4 separate regions of the Homo sapiens genome follow, and regions 1, 2 and 4 are each linked to region 3. The links come from fine-mapping of genetic effects on gene expression. A gene starts in region 3. Each other region holds a variant in brackets. All regions are shown on one strand. Distances are between the middles of the regions.

Region 1 (6,058 bases), 34 kb after region 3:
AGGGGAAAGAGAGCAATAAGATTTGGGAGAATTACACAAAGGATTTCAATTTTATCTAAAATGTTTTTGTTGTTCATGAATATTCATTATATTATTTCCTATATTTTTTGAATGCCTGAGTATTTAATTAAAATTCAGACAGAAGAGCAGATTAAAACATTGTATACAGTGAGTCAGAATACACAATTTAAAAATTGGCCAAGTACAGTGGCTCACACCTGTAATCCCAGCACCTGGGAGGCCAAGGCAGGAGGACTGCCTGAGGCCAGGAGTTCAAGGCCAGCCTGGGCAACACAGTGAGACCCTATCTCTTTTTTTTCTTTTTAATTGACTGGTGGCATTGCCATCAATGGCCTACAGACTTGGTTATTCATTAAAAAAATATTTTTTAATCAGTAGATTTGTGTATAAATAAGTACTTGCTAACAGTTTCTGAAATGTTTTCTTAAAGTGGCTCTATTATTTCACCAGAAATTTAGTTTACAAAGCTGGGTGCAGTGGCTCATGCCTGTAATCCCAGCACTTTGGGAGGCTGAGGTGGGTGGATCACTGGAGGTAAGGAGTTCGTGACCACTGTGGCCAACATGGTGAAACCCCATCTCTACTAAAAATATAAAAAAGCCGGGCATGGTGGCACACACCTGTAATCCCAGCTACTCGGGAGGTTGAGGCATGAGAATCACTTGAACTTGGGAGGCACAGGTTGCAGTGAGCCGAGATTGCACAACTGCACTCCAGCCTGGGTGACAGAGCAAGACACCATCTCAAAAAAAAAAAAAAAAAAAAATTTAGTTTACAAATGAAGTCAGTATTAGGTATTTTTCTATGTCCTGAAAGTAGGTCCACATGAAGTGAAGTGCTTTTTTTCTGATGTCCATTCATGTAAAACAATTACATTGTGAGAAAAAACATGATGCAGTACTATTTGCTTTTTTTACCTCAAGTAACAAGTCCCTTCATTTCTACGTATCACAAATCCCACAACATAAACAAAGCTACCTGGATTCTAAATTACTTAAAATATAACATAACATTTTGAGTCAGATGTTGACAACTTCTGGTGGGTGCGCTAAAAGTCTGGTTCTGAATGGCATGGCCAGTGCAAACTAGGCAAATTCTAAAGAACATAAAGTAAACATAATGTAGTAAAGGTACCTTACTATATTACCTATTAGCACTAAATTTTATATATTCTTGCTTTTCCCTGTGTAATCTTTATTTAAAAATTGGCTGCTAATCAGGATAACTCCATGAAAATATTTTTATTTTAGAGATAGGGTCTCACTCTGTCACTCAAGCTGGAGTGCAGTGGCACAATCTTGGCTCACTGCAGCCTCGACCTTAAGTGACCTTCCCACCTCAGCCTCCTGGGCAACTGGGACTACAGGGGCACTACAGGCACGAGCCACCATGCCTGGCTATTTTTTGTAGTTTTTGTATGACGGAGTTTGCCATGTTGCTCAGGCTGGTCTTGAACTCCTGGTCTCAAGCGATCTGCCCACCTTGGCCTCCTAAGTGCTGGGATTACAGGCATGAGCCATCATACCCAGCCAAGCACATTTATATTTTAAATTGAGGCTTCTATACTACTCACAATAGCTATGATATGGAATCAACAGATTAATGAATAAAGAAAATGTGGTATATATACACAGTGGAACACTATTCGGCCATAAAAAAAGAATGAAAGCCTGTCGTTCAAGGCAACATGGATGAGCCCGGAGGACCTTATGTTAAGCAAAATAAATCAGACACAGAAAGAAAAATATAACATGTTCCCACTCATATATGAAAACTAAAAAAAAAATGAACTCATGGAAGTAGAGAGTAGAACTGCAGGTATTAGTGGCTGGGAAGGATTGGGAGGAGGGGAAAACAGAGAGGTTGGTGTAGAAAAAGTTTTTGATGGAATGATAATGATAGTGACATTTTTCGACAGAGAGCTGTTACATGCAAGGCCTGTACCCTTCGCAACAGCCTGAGCTGTAAATGAGAAAAGAAAACCCATCTCACACAATATTCTATTCACTTAGCTGCTAAGGGCCTAGCATCCATACTAACTGACTTGACTGACTGACCTCAAACTAAACCAAGGTGAGAAGGTATTAGGAGTTGAAGAGGGGTGGTGGACTTGAAAATCTTCCTGCCATTCCTCTTGTAATGGATTGCTAGTCCCCAGTCTAGACATAAGACTTTTACTTGCAGGGCAGACTAGTTAAAAACTGTGCTATGACCTTTCCTCTAAGCCCATGAGAGTAGATGAGGTATTTTTAAGCACTCATGAATAATGTGCAAAATGTTTTGAAAATAGGTAATGTTCAAGATTCTTAAAAATAAAGCAAGACATTAACATTAATTGTCTACCTGTAAAGATCAGACTCCAAAAGTGTCAGCTGACGTGCAATTTCTATTGGATGAAGTGTCATGAGATCAAATGTTTCAAACTGTCCTGGTTTGCTGATATGCCATTCAATTGGTGGAGGTGGACTTTCAAAGGTAATATTATGGCTTACTCCGTTTGCCTGAGCTTGCTTCTTCCTCCTGATGATCTTAGCAATTGACTCTACCCATTTTTTCATAGCTTTCCCTGGAAAAAGAACACATAAAGAAAAATGTCTTTTACTTGACAGACATGACTGCAAATCTTCATTTAATCCTTAACTTTCACCCAGCCTCAACAGTTACCAACTCATGGCCAATTTTTATTTTCTCTAACCCTACTCATGCCATCCCGTCACTTCCTAGGTTATTCTGAAACAAATCCGAGACATCGTATTTCATTCATATTTAAGCACCTTTAAAACACTCTTTAAAGTAATAACCACAACACCATTATCACACATAAAACTGACAACTTCTTAATACATTGTTATCTTGAAGTATTTTGTCACTGTTCACATTTCTCTCTCTGATTATTTTC[CT/C]TTTTTTTTTTTTTTGAGACAGGGTCTTGCTCTGTGGCCCAGGTTGGAGTGCAGTGGCGCAATCTCAACTTATTGCAACTTCCATGTTGCGGGCTCAAGTGATCCTCCCACCTCAGCCTCCCAAGTAGCTGGGACTGCACATATCACCACGCCTGGCTAATTTTTGTATTTTTTTTGAAATGGAGTCCCACTTTGTCACCCAGGCTGGAGAATAATGGCGTGATCTCGGCTCACTGCAACCTCCACCTCCCGGGTTCAAGCGATTCTCCTGCCTCAGCCTCCTGAGTAGCTAGGATTATAGGTGCACACTACCATGCTTGGCTAATTTTGTTGTATTTTTAGTACAGACAGGGTTTCACCATGTTGGCCAGGCTGGTCTCGAACTCCTGACCTCGTGATCTGCCTGCCTTGGCCTCTCAAAGTGCTGGGATTACAGGCGTGAGCCACCGCGCCTGGCCTAATTTTTGTATTTTTAGTAGAAATAGGGTTTATCCATGTTGCCCAAGCTGGTCTTGAACTCCTGGGCTCAAGTGATCTGCCTGCCTTGGCCTCCCAAAGTGTTGGGATTACAGGCATGAGCCACTGTGCCTGGCCATATTTTCTTATATTTAGTTTGAAAAGGGATCTGAACAAGATTGCACATATTGCACTGAGTCAATGTGTCTCAAGTCTCCTTTAATCTACAGGTTACTGCTTTATTGCATATTTTTGCTTGCACTTTGTGGAAGAAATTGTCATTTGCCATGTTTTTCTGTCCTCTATATTTTCTGTAAAGCAGAGATATAGTGACTTGGTCTGATTCAGGATTAATTTTATGACACAAATACTTGCCAAGAATACTTCTAACAGGAGGCATATAATGTCTAGTTAACTTTTTGTGATAGTACCCATCCAGTCATGATAATTCCCTAGGTTTATTATTTTACTAGGACCTGAGAAATGTGATATTCTACCATTCCTTCTTCACTTACTAGCTGAAATACTTCCACAAAAATAAACTTTTCCTCATGAACTATTTGGTTATTCTGAAGTATAACTAGTATAGAAAAGAACTTTGGACATTAACATAACCATTTACTTAATTTATTCTAATGTGTGTGTGTATTTTAGAAGCTTCTTAGATTGTGTCTAATCCAGTATTCTCATTTAGAATATAAATTTTTGTTTTTTGTTTATTTTGAGACAGGGTCTCACTCTGCCCAGGCTTGTGTGCAGTGTTGCAATTTCGGGTCACTGCAGCCTCGAGCTCTGGGCTTAAAAGTGATCGCTTCACCTCAGCCTCCCGAGTAGCTGGGACTACAGGCACATGCCACCATGCTTGGCTAATTTTCATATTTTTTGTAGAGACTGGGTTTTGCCATTTTGCCCAGACTGGTCTCAAACTTCTGGGCTCAAGCAATCAGCCCGCCTCTGCCTCCCAAAGTGCTGGGATATTCTAGGTGTGAGCCATTGCACTGGCCTAGAATACAACTTGAAAATGTAGTATTATGACAATTTCAAGGCACACATAAAAATGTATCATAAACATCTCAAAGTAGAAACAAAGGAATAACATTCTTAACTTTAAATAATATTCCCCTTAAAGAACAAGTAGAACACGAAATAAGTTACACTTGTTATAGTATTTGTAATGCCCTATAATGTCAGATAAAACATAAATGTTCTTGATTCAATAATATACATTTGATGACACATTTGTTTAAATGTTCATGGCCTAGGGTTTCATTTCTTGGGCTATGATTCTGAAACTTAAAATAGAAAACTCCTCTCTTTCAGATTTCAGAAATATACCAAAAACATTTCCAGAAGATGTAAATATTATAAGAAAGCTGTTAATCATTAAAAGAATAAGATTAAAGAAAGAAAACATAAAATTACACATATTTTTATTCAGTTGAAGAAATGGCAACCTTGCAATGAGATAAAATTAAATAGCTTAAATTTATTAAAAAGAACTTTCGACTTCTTTAAAAGAAATATTCTCCTCAAAAACTTGAAAAGGCAAAGTTCTGAGACCTCAGATGATTGGTCTAAACATATGTGAGTTTCTTGCTGTCTATAAAAAACATTCCAAATGTTATTTCAGCTTTTTAAAAATGAAAAATGCTGGCCAGGCATGGTGGCTCATGCCTGTAATCCCAGCACTTTGGGAAGCTGAGGCAGGTGGATCATCTGAGGTCAGGAGTTCAAGACACCAGGCTGGTCTTGTGGTGAATGTGGTGAAATACCATCTCTACTAAAAATACAAAAATTAGCCAGGCGTGATGTCATGTGCCTGTAGTCCCAGCTACTTGGGAGGCTGAGGCAGAAGAATCACTTGAACCTGGGAGGCGGAGGTTGCAGTGAGCTGAGATGGCACCACTGCACTCCAGCCTGGACAACAAAGCAAAGCTCTGTTTCAAAAAAAAAAAAGAGAGAGAAATGTTTTAGTTTCTTAAAGTCACACAAATTTGAACATAAACTCATGTTCAATATAAGATTCAATCAAACCTTTATATAATATACCTCTTACACTTGAAATGAAGGATTCTAGTCTTTCAAGCAATTCCAAGTCTCTTTCAAAGTCATAAAAATGATGTTCAACCCAATGCCGAAATACATTTAAGATCCTGATAAAATGGAAAGAAACACATTTTAGTGAAACATAAGTGTTCAATTACACTTCTTCCTTCTCTAATGCCACGATAATAGCTTTACATACAAGGGTCAACATAATACTCAAAGACTCTCTAATCTGTATTTAATTAATACTTTAAATGCTTCAATGACAAGAGGAGAGTAGGTCTCCAAACGGTGTATTATTTATTAATAAAATGTATACTTTTAAAATATTTATAAGCATAAAAATAGTGGTTTCTGTGCTTCCCATTTATGTTAAGGAAAAGTACCCTTTATTCATATGTAGAAAACTTATGCTCTATATTACAAAAGCTATTTTAAGTTCATAAAAAGCATTTTTAAGATTTAAATTTTGGTACTTTTTCACTTAAAATGGAAAACCAACTAAGATGTACTGTATCTGGTTCTAAATGCAAGTGCTATCATCAAATTTCTTTCTTTTTTTTGAGATGGAATTTTGCTCTTGTTGCCCAGGCTGGAGTGCAATGGTGCGATCTCAGCTCACTACAACCTCCAAC
Region 2 (6,058 bases), 21 kb after region 3:
GCACTTCCCATGGGGTTAAGGTTTTCAAAGAATCTCTGGAATTAAACAAATAACACAAGTGCATATATAGTAAGTATATATTTTAGATCTTATTAAAATAAGATCTCATTAAAATTTTTTGCTGAAAATTACTTATTTAATGCTAAAAAATAACACATTAAGAGCCCACAATATGTGAAAAGTTCACAAGTGTTGCTTATTCCAATCTCTTTACTTCTGAATAAGATTATATAATTTCTGTGGAAGTTATATTCTAGTCTTAAAGTTCTATTAAGAATATGAGTTTTCATTTATTATCATTTTAATGGCTCAGCAGTAGCACTACTTATTCCTTAGGAAACTTTACTCCTACTCATTGTAACAAATGATCATCACTAGTAAGCTACCAAAAGTGTTTAGAACAAAGCTATGGTTATAATCCACAATGAAGTTTTGATAATCAGAAAAAAAGTGGAGATAAATTAGATTAAGGTCTGTTAATCCAATTTATAGATCATTCTTGATCATTTATAATTACTCTGGAAATTCCTTTTACTTTAAAAGTAGTCATTTAAATTACTTTAAAAGTAATGTCAAGAATGATTATAGGCCGAGCACGGTGGCTCACGCCTGTAATCCCACCACTTTGGGAGGCTGAGGTGGGTGGATCACCTGAGGTCGGGAGTTTGAGACCAGCCTGACCAACATGAAGAAACCCCATCTCTACTAAAAATACAAAATTAGCTGGGCGTGGTGGCGCATGCCTGTAATCCCAGCTACTCAGGAGGCTGAGACAGGAGAATCAATTGAACCTGGCAGGCGGAGGTTGAGGTGAACCGAGATCACACCATTGCACTCCAGCCTGGGCAACAAGAGCGAGACTGTCTCAAAAAAAAAAAAAAAAAAAAAGAAAGAAAGAAAGAAAGAAAGAAAGAATGATTATAAAGTTAAACCTATCTGTGCTAACTTCTAGTATAAAAAATGTTTTTATCTGAGCCAAGCCATGATGGCTCACACCTGTAATCCTAGCAGTTTGGGAGGCTGAGGCCGGGGGACTGCTTAAGCCCAGGAATTTGACACCAGCCAGGGCAATATGGTGAGACCTCTCCTCTTAAAAAAAGCCTAATAAATAAAATGTTTAAAATTTTTGTCTTTATCAAAAAATATTTTAAGCTTAAATTTAAGTTTTAACGTAGAAAATTCAGGTGATTTAGCACTGCCAAAAAAAGAGAAAAAAAGAAAAAGAAACAGTAATCTTACAAACCAGAAATATCATTGTTTACATTTAAATATTAGACTATCTTCCAATGATTTTACTGTGCATGTAAATATATGCATGTATATATGTATTTATATATAATTATTAATAATTTATATATATATTTTCCTGAAAAACTGGGATATCAATTTTAATCTTTCTGAAGTTTATATTCAATTAACTTTTTTCAATGTGGTTTGCTTTTTTTTTTTTTTTTTTTTTTGAGATGGAGTCTCACTCAGCCTTCCAAAGTGCTGGGATTACAGGTATGAGCCACCTCACCCAGCCAGTTTGCTTATTTTACAAAATACAAATTTTAACTCTATAGTATTTCATCAGATGGATATTTCAGAATGTAATAATCTCCATATAGCTAGTTATCCATATAGGTACTTTCTAATTTTTTGCTATTATAATAATTATTTTTATTAACTCCTATATATAAATTTTTCTGTACATTTTTTATGATTTCCTTAGAAAAATTCCTTAGCAGCAAATTACTGGATTTAGCTTTATTTAATTTTGAAGTGGTTTAGAAGCATATATAAAAATGGTACTAGGTTTTAGCTTTAGCAGTAGGCAAAATGAGCTTTAAAATTTCTAGTATAAAATTCTTCCCATTTTTAAGGCATTCTGCCAATTTCAAGAAAATTGTATTACTCTTTTAACAATACTGAAACAATGTGTTCTTATGTTCAGGTTAGCTAAATTAAATATTAGCCACTAGTAATTAAAGGCTTTCAGAAAGCTATAACAGCAGTATTCTTGATTTCCTCATCCTTTGCTCTATTTTAAATACTATTTATTTAAGTATGATTTGAAAAGTGAATAGCTACTTTGTCTACATTTTAAATTTATTTTGTTTGACTCAATCATATAGAAGACACTTCCTCCCAAAAATGCTTTAAATGGTGGTAGGAACCCTAGACCACACCACAAACACCAATTAGCAGGTATGGTTCTGAGATATAAATACTAAAAGTACTATTTCAAGCATACCGAATTAAAGTGTAACATTATTCCTGTGGGGACCATATTTCCTTAGCTCTCCGAAGCCCCACATCACAGAGGGCGGGTTCAATGGTGAGAGGGGATGAAATAGGTCACCATCAGTAGGTTACCACCTTTATTTTTTTTAAGAGCAAGTATCTTTTTTTTTTTTTTTTGAGATGCAGTCTCGCTCTGTCACCTAGGCTAGAGTGCAGTGGCTCTATCTCAGTTCTCTGCAACATTTGCCTTCTGGGTCCAAGCGATCCTCCCACCTCAG[C/G]CTCCTGAGTAGCTGGGATTACAAGCACGTGCCACCACACCCAGCGAATTTTTGTATTTTTAGTGGAGACAGAGTTTCACCACGTTGGCCAGGCTGGTCTTGAACTCCTGACCTCAGGTGATCCACCCACCTCAGCCTCTCAAAGTGCTGGATTTACAGGCATTAGCCACTGTGCCCGACCTATCATTTTTATAAATGGTATGCTTTAGGTGGTCTTTTTCTTAGGACTTTAGGGTACTTTGTTTTGAACCGGGAACAAAGAAGTTTCTATCTCATAATTTAGGAGGGTGGAAGTAATGGTGGATATTTTCACTCAATATGCCCAATTTGCATGCAGATTATGTCTAAAAAGTTTAGCGCAGTTTTTAATATGACACGTAAACTTATTCTGGTTGATAGTTATAATATGTTCCCAAGTTCAAGTATAATATAATAACATTCATTTAGCATAAACATAATATCATAGTTTAATTTAGAAGGTTGTTTCATATTTTATAGTACTATAGTATCAATATTACACACTATTGCTCAAAATAGAACATCAATCGACAGGATGTTAGAAAAATCATCTTCTGCCAGGCATACATATACCACTTTGCTGACCCTTTTCCTATTTAAACACACTGTTCTTATGAATTATATAACGTTATTTTGCTACATGTAACATTATCTAAAATGGCTATCAAATCTAGAAATGAATTTTCTTTTTACTGCATGGACATCATTCTACTTTGTCATTCACTTTTTATGGTGTAGCTTGAACCAACTACACAAAGAAGCAATACTTTCAAAAGAAAGTACTTAGTAACAATATTAACAACTGCAGATAGTGTAGAATGTCTAATGTTTAACATGCTATCTACTGATTAATTTTTTTCTATTATTTTCATAGCAAGACAAATAATTATGATATTTCTTACAGGTCACACAAGATCTAAAATTTTTTTTTAATTTTTAAAATTTTTAATTTTCATGGGTACATAATAGGTGTATATATTTGTAGGGTATAAGAGATGTTTTGATACAGGCATGTAATGTAGAATAATCCCATCATGGAGAGTGGGGTATCCATTCCCTCAAGCATTTATCCTTTGTATTATGAATAATCCAATTATACTCTTATAGTTAATATTTTTTATTTTATTTTTTGAGACGGAGTCTCCCTCTGTCACCCAGGCTGGAAGGCAGTGGCATGATCTCGGCTCACTGCAGCCTCCACCTCCTGGGTTCAAATGATTCTCCTGCTTCAGTCTCCCAAGTAGCTGGGATTACAGGCACCCGCCACCATGCCCGGCTAATTTTTTGTATTTTTAGTAGAGACAGGGTTTCACCATGTTGGTCAGGCTGGTCTCAAATTCTTGACCTCAAGTGGTCCTCCCGCCTCAGCCTCCCAAAGTGCTGTGATTACAGGCGTGAGCCACCATGCCCAGCCGATACTTATAGTTATTACTACTATTATTATTTTGAGACAGAAGTCTTACTGTGTCACCCAGGCTGGAGTGCAGTGGCGCTATCTCGGCTCACTGCAACCTACCCCTCCTAGGCTCAAGTGATTCTCCCACCTCAGACTCCTGAGTAGCTGGGACTGCAGGCACCCAGCACCATGCCCAGCTAATTTTTTTTTATATTTTTAGTAGAGACGGGGTTTCGCCATGCTGCCCAGGCTGGTCTCCAACTCCTGATCTCAAGCGATCCGCCCGCCTTGGCCTCCCAAAGTGCTGGGATTACAGGCGTGAGCCACAGTGCCTGGCCTCTTACAGTTACTTTTAAATCTGCAATTAAATTATTATGGACTGTAGTCACCCTGTTGTGCGATCCAATAGTATGTCTTATTCATTCTATTTTTTTTTTTTGGTACCCATTAACACGTTCTCTTCTAAAGATATGCAAAGAAAATATTTACCCTCATATCTGGTTCTATCCGTAAACAGTAAGGCTGATTCTGATACTGCTGAATTTCTCCAGTAATTTCAGCTACTTTCCTCCTCTTACTGAAATTGATTAAATCTTTCCCTTTCTTTTTTAAAAAATCATTATTCCCTTCTTCGGTCTTCAGAATATTTGTTAAATATATTCCTAGTAAAAAAAAAAAAAGAATTTAAAGAAAAGTTATTTTAAATTTTGTTATTTAATCAATTATTTGGGAAAACAACTGATCTAGTAAAGTTGAAAGACATCCTATACTATTCAGCAACTCTACTACTAAAATGTTAAGTCTCTGATAAACAATCATTAACTCTCCATTAAGCATTTTTTAAAGAGAAAGAATTTAAAATAAAAAGAAAATAAAAGCTACTGGCTTGTACAAAAATAAAGGCTGCTAATCTAAGAAATGGCAAATTAAGCTTTTCTAAACTCTAATTTCACCAAGTGCAAATTGTGTTAAATCTATTCTGACCAAATATTTTAATATTTGATTATAAATATTTAATGCCAAGTATCTTAGGTGATTATTAATAAATTAATTTTAAGCCAATTTTGGTTAATAAGTCTATAGGCTTATAAACTAATTCTGTTTTTTCAGAGACTGTAATTTAGATAGAAAAATAATTACTTCTCATTCATGAACAATAAAAAAGTTTTTAGTCCCTTTTTCATGCGTAATTGCTGATTCATTTAAATTGGTGGTTCTCAGCTGGGGACAATTTAGTCCCCCAGGGGATATTTAGGAATGTCTAGAGACATTTTTGGTTACCACAACTCCAGGGTGCTATTGGAGTGTAATGAATAGAGGCCAGGATGCTGCTACAGATCCTATTACGCACACGACAGCCCATCACAACAAAGAATTATTTGGCCCAAAATACCAAAATTGTTGAAGTTGACAAAACTTGATTTAAATCATTCAATTTCAATCATACACAACAATATTTTAATTCTAAATTTAAAAATCACATAGAAGCTTTTAATAAATTAAAGAGAAAGCAAACACTGTAGATGTGACATAGATAGTTATGATAAAAATAACAGTTACCATTTCATGAGTGCGTCCTATGTGCTAGACTTATTAGGTAGTACAGACAAAATATTTTTAATCCTTATTTATAACAACCCTATGAGATATTATAGTCTTCATTTTATAGAAAATAGAGAGTTTTATTATTTATTAATACAGAGAGCTAATAAAAGTAGATGAGCTCAGATATAAAATAAAGATAACATGCCTCTGAAGACTGCTCTCTTTTGGCTATCACACGCTCACCCTCAAAATATATCCATATTTAGTAACTTACCAAAAAAAGGCACACAAGGTGGATTGATTGACTTAAGTTTTACTAGGTATTTTTTAAAGTGATCTTGACTTAATTCCACAGCTTCGTCCAAAATTTTCCTTTTCCTTTCCTGCAGTGCCTTAAAGTATACATAAATTGAGTATAAATTTTTTACAATTCAATCATATTTTATAAATGCAAACCTTTAAATTTTATAAAATTTTGCAAATTATCTGGAAAACAATTTTTTTACATTAAAAGATGAGTGGTATTCCTTTGTACACTTACCTGAAGTGATTTCTCCTCTCTTTATCTATAAATATAAAACCCATAATTTACTCA
Region 3 (6,058 bases):
CACTAGGGGAAGAAGAGTGACAGATACATAAAACCCTATATACTATATTTTGCAACTTCCTGTAAGTCTTTTCTAACTATTTCAGACAAAAAGTTTAAAAAACAAAAAAAAAGACCCTAAAAATAGACAGGTATCTAGGTTGGAGGTTTCATAAATATGTAGAGAAAAACACAGAAGTAAAAACTTATCACTTGGCAACATGGGAAAACCCCATCTCTACAAAAAAATACAAAAAGTTAGCCGGGTGTGGTGGTACATGCCTATAGTCCCACTTACTTGGGGGCGGGGGGGGGGGGGGGTGACACTGAGGCAGGAGGATCACTTGAGCCCAGGAGGTTGAGGATGCAGTGAGCCCTGACTGTGCCACTGCACTCCGGCATGGGCTACAGGGTGAAACCCTGTCTCAAAACAAAAACAACTTATCACCTGCACATTTCTATCACGTATTCTCCAAAGGTAATACATACATCATTGAGATGTTCCCCAAAGGCAGCATCATGTTTAATAAACACTGAAAACTGTTCTTAAAAAGGAGTGGCACCCGTATTAACATTCTTCTGTAGCCATAGATCAACTAATTAGAAATGAAATAAAGTATCAGAAAAGATGAAAAAGGGGAGCTTCGTAGAATCATGGGCTGTGAAGATCCTTTCCTCAGCTTCACACAAACAGCATGTTTTCCCCACCCAAAATTACCATAATATACTTGAAGAGTCACATACAGCCCCCCTGAAGGGAAATCACTACAAAGATAATAGAGTACTTAATACTTACCTCAAAATATTTTTTCTCAATTTCTGGATTTTTCCCCATTGTTCGTTGTTCATAACAACATATAATACAAGTTTCAAATCCGCTGATATCTTTTAGAGTTTTCAGCAATGGCTCCAAAGACTATTTAAAAAAGAATATATTTTTTGTTTTTGATTTAAAAATTTTTCTACTCTAAAAGTAGGTTGAGGAGGTACAGGGGTATTTATAGCTCCCCTACAATTTATCCATCTTTGAATCAATCCAACAAAGCACATGTAATTAAAGCTCTAGGCTAGGTGCAGTGGCTCACACCTGTAATATCAACACTTTGGAAGGCAGAGGTGGAAAGATCGCTTGAAAGCAGGAGTTGAAGACCAGCCTGGAGAATACAGCGAGAGACAAACCACCCCCCGCAACACCTTACAAAAAATTTAAAAATTAGCCAGCATGCTGGTGCACACCTATAGTCCCAGCTATTGAGGAGGCTGAATGGGAGGATTACTTGAGCCTCAGGAGCTCGAGGTTACAGTGAGCTATGATCACTCCACTGCACTACAACATGTGTGACAGAGCAAGACCCCTATCTTAAAACAAAAACAAACAAACAAAAACCCCTCTGTAACTAATGATTGGGTAAGCTCCTGTTAACTAAACCATGTACTGATTTTGGTTTCCAGAAAAAGGATTCAGATGACTGCATTTTGGAGTTCTCATGGGAAACAAATGGAATCAACCTTACTCTTAAAAGTTTAATTTTATTTAATCTAATTTGGGATTTAAATAATCAACGATTTCCCTACAAAAGTTAAATCTGACCCTAACTTGGTTCAATGCTAATTATTTTTAAAATAATCGATGCCCACAACACTATACAAACTGATGTTTTTTTTTTTTTTTTTTTTTTTTGAGACAGAGTTTTGCTCTTGTTGCCCAGGCTGGAATGCAATGGCATGATTTCGGCTCACTGCAACCTCCGCCTCCCAGGTTCAAGCGATTCTCCTGCCTCAGACTCCCAAATAGCTAGGATTACAGACATGCACCACCACGCCTGGCTAATTTTGTATTTTTAGTAGAGACAGGGTTTTGCCATGTAGGTCAGGCTGGTCTCGAACTCCCGACCTCAGGTGAGCCACCTGCCTTGACCTCCCAAGTGTTGGGATTACAGGCGTGAGCCACCGCGCCCGGCCCAAACTGGTATTTAAAGAAAAGAACAATGAATTATTTATAACTTAATTCTCAATGTCATGGTTAACATGTTCCGTGGGAACAACCAAGGGAAAAAGAGAGGATTTTGGCTTTTCATAACATCCAATTGGCAAAATCCTTTAAAATTTTTACAGAAGCCTCTAGTAAAATGCATATAACACTTTTCTCAACATGCTTCACCAGGTCGGTATGATAATGATGAGCGTATATACATATGGTCCCTGGTGACTTTTATCTTCTCTTTACTGCATCAACTATAAGGCAAATCCCGGATTCAAAGATGTTAAAATGTGAAGAAACGTGTGCTTTAGAATTCATGGAATAAGGTTCATCTTCTAAGTGAAGAGACTTCGCTCACTGGATACTTACCTCTTCATAGTATATGCAGTCGGCCATCAGTATGAAGTCGGGTGGAGAAGGAAAGCCTTCTATTTCTTCCCCCCTTAAAAATGCCAAACAAATATTTCAATTGTTTTAATAATTCAAAATACTCTTGTTTTATAAAGAACCGGAAAGTCCCCTTCCATCCTTTTAATGAAACGCAATTCAAAACAAACTACAAATCAATATCTTAAAACAAGCTGAAAGGCCATACAAACCATTTCAGTACCTTGGCTTGAACAGAACCAGTGACAAGATGCTTGTTCATATTAATATTCATCTTCAGCAAGTCTTGCAATTCCTCAAGATCGGTGACTACAACATCAGCCCTATAAAATAACGTCGACTGAGGTGTAGGCACAGGGGGGAAAGCCTGTAATCCGGATTTCCCCAGCAAGAAGGCGCCCCCACATCCCGCCCGCCCGCCAGCTCTTACCCGAGGGTAGCAGCCATGAGCCCCACGGCCCCGGTGCCCGAACCCAGCTCCAGCACCGACCGCCGGCTCAGCGCGTGGGCCCCGTCGCCAGAAAACTCGGGCGTTTCCAGGTATTTAGAAAGGACAATGGCAGCGTCCCACACAACGCAACCCACGCCACCGGAGCTATACTGCTGTAGTCGTAGCACTGTACCATCCCGCTTCTCCAAAACTCGCACAAAGCTCCGCAGTGGGTCCTCCAGCGAGGACTCCAGCGTATCCGCCATTGCGCCCGGCAACAGAAAGCGGCGCGCGCAGGGACGTCACATCAACGCGCACCGCCCCGCCCTGCGGCTCCGCCCCCTGCCCGCCGCTGAGTTGGCGACGCAGCGCGCGCGAGTTAACAAAGCCCGGAAGGCAGCGTTACCTGGGCGGGGCCGAGCGTGGGGCCCCTGCTTACCCGACGCGCTTGGCAGCCTCCCTCTACCCTAAATCACACGTTTGGCTTAACGAAGAGGCCGTTTAAATCACTTTCCCAGACAAAACTATTATAATCTGCTCTTTAAAAAACAAAGCCAACCTCAGAGTTTACCAAGTTGGACACTTGATTTACATAGTAGTTACAAGGCTTAAATGCAATCAGCTTCCAAGATCCTACCAAAGATGGCTATAATCTTACAATCTTCCTTTTCAAGTTCCTAGTATGCTCCTAGTTTTTTGTATGAATTCATAAAAGTGGTTGCTAGAAGCCTGCAGCTCACATTTAACAGTGAAGAAAAAATTGTGTGTGTGTGTGTGTGTGTCTATAGGACTCAACAATCTCCCCCTTTGTTCCTTATAATGAAAACACATATTTTAAAAGTCTTTTAAAAATTAAGACTGGGGTGATTTATTAATCTTGTTAAGAACTCTGATACAAAGCACAGTAAAAGGCCACAAACCAGTAAATAAACAACGTGGCTTTTGGCTACTTTACAACTGCTGCTACAGCACTATCAGCAAAACACTCTATCACTTTGAACGAAGGCATCCAAATGGCAAATAAAAGCTTTACTCACTTATCTGATTAAAATGTTTAATAAAGCTTTAAGTATTTGCTGGTTTAAATATTACCAATCTAAAAAATATATTTAAAAAAAATTTCAGTTAACACGAGATTTATAGAGAAAGTTACTAGGTCTTGAAGGCAAGGCAGTTGGTTCCTATGCCATAGAATTTTTTTTGAATTTATGAATTAGTAAAGTAGCAGATTGTATTATAGGCCTCAAGTCACTTAAATTTATATAGGTTATTAGCAGTATCTTTAAATATACAATATAAACAAAACTGTACATACATGGCATATTAACTGTTTTCCATAACAATAGGCAATTCATTAGCTAAAGACGTCATAGTCTGCAAAAACAAAAGGCACATCTGAATGAGATACATGCCCTTTTTCCCTCCATCATTGGGTTATGTAGTCTTTGTTTACATTTTGACAAAATAATAAACACTTACAGTGCCATTCTATTATTTTCATCCTACTTTTCATTTTTGTCTTCAGCAGCAAATACCGGCATTTAAGACATGGCATTAAAGAGTTTAAGAACAGTTGGTGTTATTCACAATTCTCCTAGATGTAAAAACTAGAAGTAAAAACTAGAAGATGGTCAAAGAGGTTTAAAAATCAGTAACACCATATACCCCTCCCATATTTGTGTAAATTCACTGCCTTAAAAAGGCATCTATTACTCAAATTTGAAAAATTTCACAAAAGCACTATCCCTTTTCAGTGCAATCATGTCACTTTAAACCATATTTTTGCAGAGTTTACAGTGCAAATATAAATTCTTTATACTGGCCTTTTGGCAGCACTGAGGATCCAAGACAAGGCAATGCTACTGATCACCTGAGGATAATGGTGAAGGACTTTTGTATTTTTATTTTTCCAATTCTTAAAAGCTTATTTGATCAGTAGCATTTTTGTAAGAGCATTATTTGTAAAAAGTACTAAAATACTATGTCTTTTTTTGAATAAATTAAAAAAAAAACTTTACAAATACCATTCCAGTGTCAATGACTACATATGGCTAAGGTCATTGGGGAGTTTCTGCATTTTCTAGCAAAGGCAGTCTGTACAATGGGGGGTGCGAAAGCTCCCGTTTGTAAGTCTTTGGTGGCAGTTTTGGCAGATGAGGGCTTGAATTCTGCCTTGGTGGAACAGGGGGAGCTGGAGGATGAGCAAGATTATTCTGACTAGAACTGAGCACATAGCATCGACGCGGTACCCTTGGAGAGGGTGTGCTAGGAGGAGTGCTTGGCGAATTTGGACACGTACTAATGTCTCTGAGCCAGTCTGAATCTCTGTGAAGATGCCCCAGTGGAGGTGGCTGAAGATTAAATGGACAGTTTATAAAGTGTTCTGGAGGCCGAAGGGGAACTGGTGGAGGGGTATCAGGAAGAGGATCTCTTGGTGGTGGCGGAGGTGGACTATGCAGAGGCCCATCAAATGCACCAGTAGGAACAGGAACTCTGGGTTTTACCTTTGGAGGAGGAGGCTGTCTCGGTGGAATAGCAGGAGGATCATCATCAGATTTCATATTTCCCTCAAAAAAAAAAGTAATTAAATTATACCTCTATTCTGAAAAATTAAAAAAAAAAATTTTTAAGTCTGAAAAATTCTTACTTGTCAAGTTAAATTCAGAGGCTCAAAATAAACTAATCTGGGTTAATTATCAGATTATGAGTACTCCTAGATTAATTCAGGGCTGGGTTTAATATTTTTATATATGAGATGTTTTAATTTAAGTCTTAGGTCCTAACTCTTTATCTTGCTTTGTGTATACATTTCAGAAATTTATGTATTTTAATTATAATAGTAGGTAAGTGACAATAATTTATTGCTTTATAGACATGAAAGGACATGATGTCTAGAGGACTTTAATGTCTAGCTTCTGCTTACTGGGCATCTACTGCTACTTTCTCCAGTGAGGCTTAGAGCAGTAGATCTCAAAGTGTGATCCAGAGACCAACAACATCAGCATCAGTAGGGAACTTGTTAGAAAAGCAAATTCTTGGGCCCCATCCTAGACTACTGAATCAGAAACTCTGGAGGTGTGGCTCCACAGTCTGATTTTACCAAGCCTTTCAGGTAATTCTGATGCACCCTTAAAATTTTGAGAAGCATTAGTTGAAAGTTTGAAGAATACTTGGAATACTACTGAAGTTTTTTTCCACCTGTACCAGAAAGAAAATGTACTTCCAGCCTCTTTTTTATTTTTTTATTTTTATTTTTAGTTTTTGAGACAGAGTCTTGCTCTG
Region 4 (6,058 bases), 66 kb after region 3:
ATGAGGTCTCCCTATTTTGCCCAGGCTGGTCTCAAACACCTGGGTCCAAGCAATCCTCTGACCTTAGCCTCCCAAAGTGCTGGGATTATAGGCAAGAGCCACCACGTCTGGCTGGAAAAGTCAGTTTAGATGTAGAAGTTTTACATATTTAGCCAAGTATTACCTATGCCAACATAACTTTTGTTGTTAGTGTTGAGATAGTAAAAATAAAATTTTATTTGTATCTCTCCACTTATTTTCATTTTATCTAAGTGTATTCCTGAACCAACTAACTTGCATACTCTCCCTCAATACAGTATTTATCTCCTTTAAATTGTAGGCCTCATAGAAAAATCAGTATGAGTACATAGGAGGTTGAGGTTATCTCAACTTTTTAAGATTTCTCCAAATCTTCCTCCTATAGGGAACATAATCCTGAAATCACACTCCAGATTCATCTTTATTTTTTATTTATTTTTCTATTTATTTTTTGAGACAGAGTCTCACTATTCCACCCAAGCTGGAGTGCAGTGGCGCGATCTCGGCTCACTGCAACCTCCGCCTTCCGGGTCAAGTGATTCTCCTGCCTTAGCCTCCTGAGTAGCTGGGATTACAGGAGCTCACCACCACGCCCAGCTAACTTGTGCAATTTTAGTCGAGACAGGGTTTCACCATGTTGGCCAGGCTGGTCTCAAACTCCTGACCTCAAGTGATCCACCTGTCTTGGCCTCCCAAAATGCTGGGATTCTAGGCATGAGTCACTGCACCCAGCCAAATTCATCTTTATACCCCAGATCTAGTATGTGCCAAATTCTTCTGGTCATTCAGTACTCATGATGTTGTACTATAAAAGATTTCTACAATAAGAACAGACAGAACTCCAGAGAGAAAACAGAAGATAATCCAAAACAGGTTTAGAATGAACAAGATTTGAAGGATTACGAGGATTCCAGAATTACAAATATTTGAAGGATAAAATAGTGAGATATTTATTTGCTTTATTAAAAAAAAAAAAAAAAAAAACCTTCAATTTAAGTTTACCTGAAAGTGTAGAGCAACTGCAGGTCTGGCCATCAATTTATTGAAATGTTCATGAAACTCTGGTGAAAGAATGTCCTGTGATAATGTTTCATAAGGATCAAATGCTTGCTCCTATTTTTTTAAAAAGAGAAAAAGCATTAGGTTTAAAAGAATATATTTTCTACCAATATGGTACAGATTATTATCACTTGATCCCAGGAGTTCGAGGTTACAGTGAGCTATGATTGTGCCACTATATTCCAGCTCGAGCAACAGAGTGAAACCCTGTCTCAAAAGAAAAGAAAGAAATGAAAAGAAAAAAGAGAAGAGAAGAAGAAAGATTTCTTTTCCCATTAGACTGGCAAAAATTAATGGGATATCTGCAGAACCGATATGAAAACAAAACAAATTTTGAAAAAAAGAATTAAAAAGAAAAAGAATAAGGTAATACCGAGTTAGTGAAGGGAAAGGGTGAAGAAAGAAGGAAGCTTACATACACTGGAACTTAGCTGGAAGTGAACGTGGCAAAGTGTTTCCAAGTTCTAAAAATGTATCTAGTCTTTAGCACTACAATTCCACTTCCAGGAATATATCCTTAAAAATGATTAGAATATATGACTGGGCGCGGTGGCTCATGCCTATAATCCCAGCACTTTGGGAGGCCGAGGCGGACGGATCATGAGGTCAGGAGTTCGAGGCCAGCCTAGCCAACAGAGAGGAACACCGTCTCTACTAAAAATACAAAAAATTAGCTGGGCGTGGTGGCAGGCGCCTGTAATCCCAGCTACTCAGGAGGCTGAGGCAGGAGAATGGCTTGAACCTGAGAGGCAGAGGTTGCAGTAAGACGAGATCGTGCCATTGCACTCTAGAATGGGTGACAGAGGGAGACTCCATGTCAAAAAAAAAAATGATTAGAATATCAAGGCATAGTGCAAATATGTTTGTTGCAGTGTTGTTTACAATAACAAAAAAAAAAAGGAAAAAACTCTACAACCTATGGATAATAGATAGTTAAAATATGTTATGGTGTCTCCATATAACATCACATTATTTATACTTAAAAATTGTGTTGAAGTATATACATTAACATGGACAATGTTTATGATATACAGAGTAAAAACAGTAAGTTATAAAATAGTGGGATCCTATTTTTGCAAACACACATACATTCGTATGTATGCACAGAAATATATAAGGATAAGTTATCTCTGGGTGTTATAAAATAAAGTGACTTTCATCTAATTTATATATCTATTTTTCTGAATATTTTTACAATGAGCTACATTATTTTTATAGTCATTTAAAAGATAAAATGATTTTTACTTTGGAAAACATTAAAATAATATAAAGCTTCTTTCCAACTTTAAGTTTAAAATCCATAGAAGGTAAAGAGCTATGGTCAATAAAATGTATCTTCCTTCATCTTGAATATACTTACCACTAAAAAAAAAAAAAAAACCTAAATGTTACTACTCTAGTTTATATACTACTCTAGTATATAAACTTTCACTATAAATATTGCCATAAACACACTATAAAGAAAGTGTCACTATATAGGCAATGTGATTTTAGTTTGTTATCAGTTAAATCTTAAATATCTTTTTATAATGGCCAGTGGTATCTTCTAATTTTCATAAAGAATATCTTACAAAAAAATTTTGTTTTTTGGAGACAGGGTCTCACTCTGTCGCCCAGGATGGAGTGCAGTGACACAATCATGGGCTTGATCTCCCAGGCTTCCTACCTCAGCCTCCTGAGTCACTGGGACCACAGATGGGCACTACCATGCCTGGATAATTATTTTACTTTTTTATGGAAA[C/T]GGGGTCTCACTATGTTGCCAAGACTCATCTCTAAGTTTCTTACTACAGCATTTAGGGCTTTAATGAGAATATAAGTAGTTTTGTAAACTTACTTCTGCCAAATCTTCAAAACAGCTGCCAGCTAAGGGATGAGGACTGCTTTCATCAGTCATTTCAACTGTGTCTTCAATCAAACCTAAAAGTTTCACAGTCAATTCATGTATATCTGAAATGTTACTAAAAATCTTTTCGATATCCTGAAAAAAGAGAAGGAAGGTTAAGAAATGTGAGATTGAGAATTCTGCTAAAAAATTACTAAATATAAAGAGCAATATAGGCTACTCGAGGCAGACTGCCTATGGAATAGCCCTGCTCCACAAGAAACAGTACTTTTGCTGCTGCTGTACGCTGCCGCTTCAGCAGAGGTTCCTACCATTGTCATGCCTTTGACTTCTTTCTTAGACAAAGCCAAGAACTGTCCCGAGCTAAGCCCCAACTTTGGGGCTTACCTGCCCTGCACCAAATACATCATTTAATTTATGGGTGGTACTCGTTTTCTACATGTTTTTAAATTTATGGAATAAACTATAGAATTTCTTTAACTAGCATATCTTTTATTGGGAGCATGATTAAAGCTATTATCACTTCTGAACAATTCATATATTATATAAAGCAATATATTTCCATTAAATGTCAACAAGCTATAGCAGAATTTTTGCATTTTGCTCTTGGGAAAACTCATTCTTTGTAAAAATAAAAGTTATTACATGTGAATGCACTCCCATTATAAAAGATTCAAACACAAGACAGAGAGAGTAAAATATGAATGTTTACTTTCATGCCCCCCTTACACCCATGACCCTCAGAGGTAGAAACTATTAATAGTTTAGTATGCATTATTCCAGTATAAAATTCCAACCATTTTCAAACATGTACATCTTGATGTTAATATATTAAAAGATGGAATCATACTGTGTATTCTTTTAACTTGGGTTGGAGAGGTCAACGTACTTTGGAAATAAAGAGACTTGCTTGTACAAAAAAAAAAAGAAACAATATAAGAGTTAAGGGTATATCTTCATTGAATCTCAAATTAATATATTCCAAGACAGTAAAAATCAATCATGAACAGGAAGAGAATTTTAAAAATCTCTTGGATAACAGACAATAAAAATACTACAAAATATAGATTCTAGATAGTTTTTTTAAATCTAAAACCTCCTACTGTGGATGATTCTAAGCTACTTTTTACATAAAGAATTCTGGCATTTGAGTGTTTTAAAACTGGCTGAGATGCTAAAAGACTTGATCAAGGTCTTACAGAGCCCTAGGTTTTACTTATAGCTTAGGCTATATAGTCTTATAGATTAATGGTAAGAGCTGGGATGAGAATGAAGATAACTCCTAATCCTGTTACAATCTGGTTTCACAATTTAGGGCCCATCTCCTGGATCTGAGAAGGAATTACAGATTTCATCCAAGCTCCCGTCTGTGAATTACAGCCATTCACTGCTTAAAGACGGGTATGTTCTGAGAAATGCGCTGTTAGGCGATTTTGTCATTGTGCAAATATCACGGCTAGATGATATACTACAACATTTAGGCCATATAGGTATAGCCTGTTGCTCCTGGGCTACAAACCTGTACAGCATGTTACTGTATGGAATACTGTAGGTAACTGTAACACAATGTTAAGTATTTGTGTATCTAAACATATCTATATAGAGAAAAGGTACAGTAAAAATATAGTATAATCTTACAGGATTACTGTCATATATATGGGTATTTATAGTCTTATCACTGACTAAAACATCATATGTGGCAGATAGCCATATATCTAGGATAAGACAGGTTCAAGCCCTCTGAACACAAACACATCATATGACTGACCATCCCGGTTATGGCCAACTATTATTCACTCTGGCATCTTATAATGGAAACATCACGGGCTTTGGAACCTGACAGACCTGAGCTTGGATCCTGGCTCCACCACATGTGGTATAATATGAAACATATTTTTGGTCTTTGTCCCTGGTTCCTGTCTTAGAGCCCCTAAAACGCTAAGAATATCCTGAGTGATAATAATGTCTTTTGTTATTCATAATGAGTACCTTTGATAAATACTGAGTTTATGCTAATGAGGTTACTTACAGTAGGGCCCCTAGATAACCTCATGATAGGGCCAGTCACCAAAAAGACCAGATGATTAGAGGATTGAAGGGTTACTTGAAACCAAACTGACTCATGAGAAAAAGAAAAAGGATCAGAGGGTTGCAACTTTCAGCCCCACCCACTGACCTCTAAAAAATTGGGGAAAGAGCCTGGGAAACATGGCAAAACCCCATCTCTACAAAAAATGCAAAATTAGTCGGGTGGGGTGGTATGTGCCTGTAGTCCCAGCTACTCAGGAGGCTGAAGCTGGAGGATCTGCTTGAGCCCAGGAAGCAGAGGTTATGGTGAGCCAAGATGGTGCCACTGCACTTAAGCCTGGGCAACAGAGCCAGACCCTGTCTCCAAAAAAAAAAAAAAAAAAAAAAAAAGGGCAGGGGTGAGAGGCTAGAGATCAAGCTCCATAAAAACTCTTGATGAGCTTCCTGGTTGCAGACCTTGTGGAGGTGCTAGGAGGGTGGCTTGCCCAGAGAGGGCTTGGAAACTCTGTGCCCCTATACTTTGCCCTGTCCATCTCTTCATCTGTATCATTTTAAAGTCCTTCATAATAAACTGGTAAACGTGTTTCCCTGATTTCTGTGAGCTGTTCGACCAAATTAATGGAACCCAAGGAGGGGGTCATGGGAACTCCAATTTATAACTGATCAGTTCGGAGCACAGTTCACAACCTGGGACTTTCAATTGGCGCCTGAAGTGTGAGACAGTCGTGTTGGGACTGAGTCCTTAATCTGTGAGATCTGACACTATTTAGAGGTAAATAATGTCAAAATTGAGCTAAATTATAGGACACCTAGTTGGTGTACACAGGAGAATTACTTTGGTGTATGGGGAAAAAATCCTCACATACGTTGTCACAGAAATGTTCTGTGTTGAGTGTGAAGATTAGAGAGGGGTCAGGCGCGGTGGCTCATGCCTATAATCCCAGAACTTTGGGAAGTCAAGGTGGGTGGATCACCTAACGTCAGGATTTCGAGACCAGCCTGGCCAACATGGCGAAACCCCGTTTCTACCAAAAGTACAAAAATTAGCCAGGCGTGGTGGTGCACATCTCTAATCCTAGCTACTCGGGAGGCTGAGGCAGGAGAATCGCT

Evidence for each region. PIP is the estimated chance that this variant, and not a neighbour inherited with it, causes the effect. A credible set is the group of variants that fine-mapping cannot tell apart.
Region 1: its variant is the best candidate, but not a certain one, in a credible set for the expression of VCPKMT in whole blood (INTERVAL, PIP 0.55).
Region 2: its variant is the best candidate, but not a certain one, in a credible set for the expression of VCPKMT in blood mononuclear cells (TOPMed, PIP 0.54).
Region 4: its variant is the best candidate, but not a certain one, in a credible set for the expression of VCPKMT in unexposed skin (GTEx, PIP 0.88).

Annotation. Positions count from the first base shown.
Region 1 is chr14:50,147,644-50,153,701 of GRCh38, forward strand. SOS2 (SOS Ras/Rho guanine nucleotide exchange factor 2) reads right to left here. Exons shown (of 23, transcript NM_006939.4): 13 at 5,427-5,530; 14 at 2,365-2,587. Among named protein-coding and RNA genes, the nearest start is that of VCPKMT, 34 kb to the left of the region's middle. The variant CT/C (reference allele first, on the strand shown) is at 2,921.
Region 2 is chr14:50,134,205-50,140,262 of GRCh38, forward strand. It overlaps SOS2 (SOS Ras/Rho guanine nucleotide exchange factor 2), which reads right to left. Exons shown (of 23, transcript NM_006939.4): 17 at 5,738-5,855; 18 at 4,408-4,580; 19 at 1-35. Among named protein-coding and RNA genes, the nearest start is that of VCPKMT, 21 kb to the left of the region's middle. RefSeq lists an enhancer at 4,730-5,434. The variant C/G (reference allele first, on the strand shown) is at 2,505.
Region 3 is chr14:50,113,511-50,119,568 of GRCh38, forward strand. VCPKMT (valosin containing protein lysine methyltransferase) reads right to left here and starts at 3,062. Exons shown (of 6, transcript NM_024558.3): 1 at 2,777-3,062; 2 at 2,559-2,669; 3 at 2,329-2,401; 4 at 775-894. The coding sequence starts at 3,042. It overlaps SOS2 (SOS Ras/Rho guanine nucleotide exchange factor 2), which reads right to left. Exons shown (of 23, transcript NM_006939.4): 23 at 3,620-5,343. The coding sequence ends at 4,834. RefSeq lists an enhancer at 2,999-3,058.
Region 4 is chr14:50,179,552-50,185,609 of GRCh38, forward strand. SOS2 (SOS Ras/Rho guanine nucleotide exchange factor 2) reads right to left here. Exons shown (of 23, transcript NM_006939.4): 6 at 2,912-3,055; 7 at 1,021-1,131. Among named protein-coding and RNA genes, the nearest start is that of SOS2, 49 kb to the right of the region's middle. The variant C/T (reference allele first, on the strand shown) is at 2,819.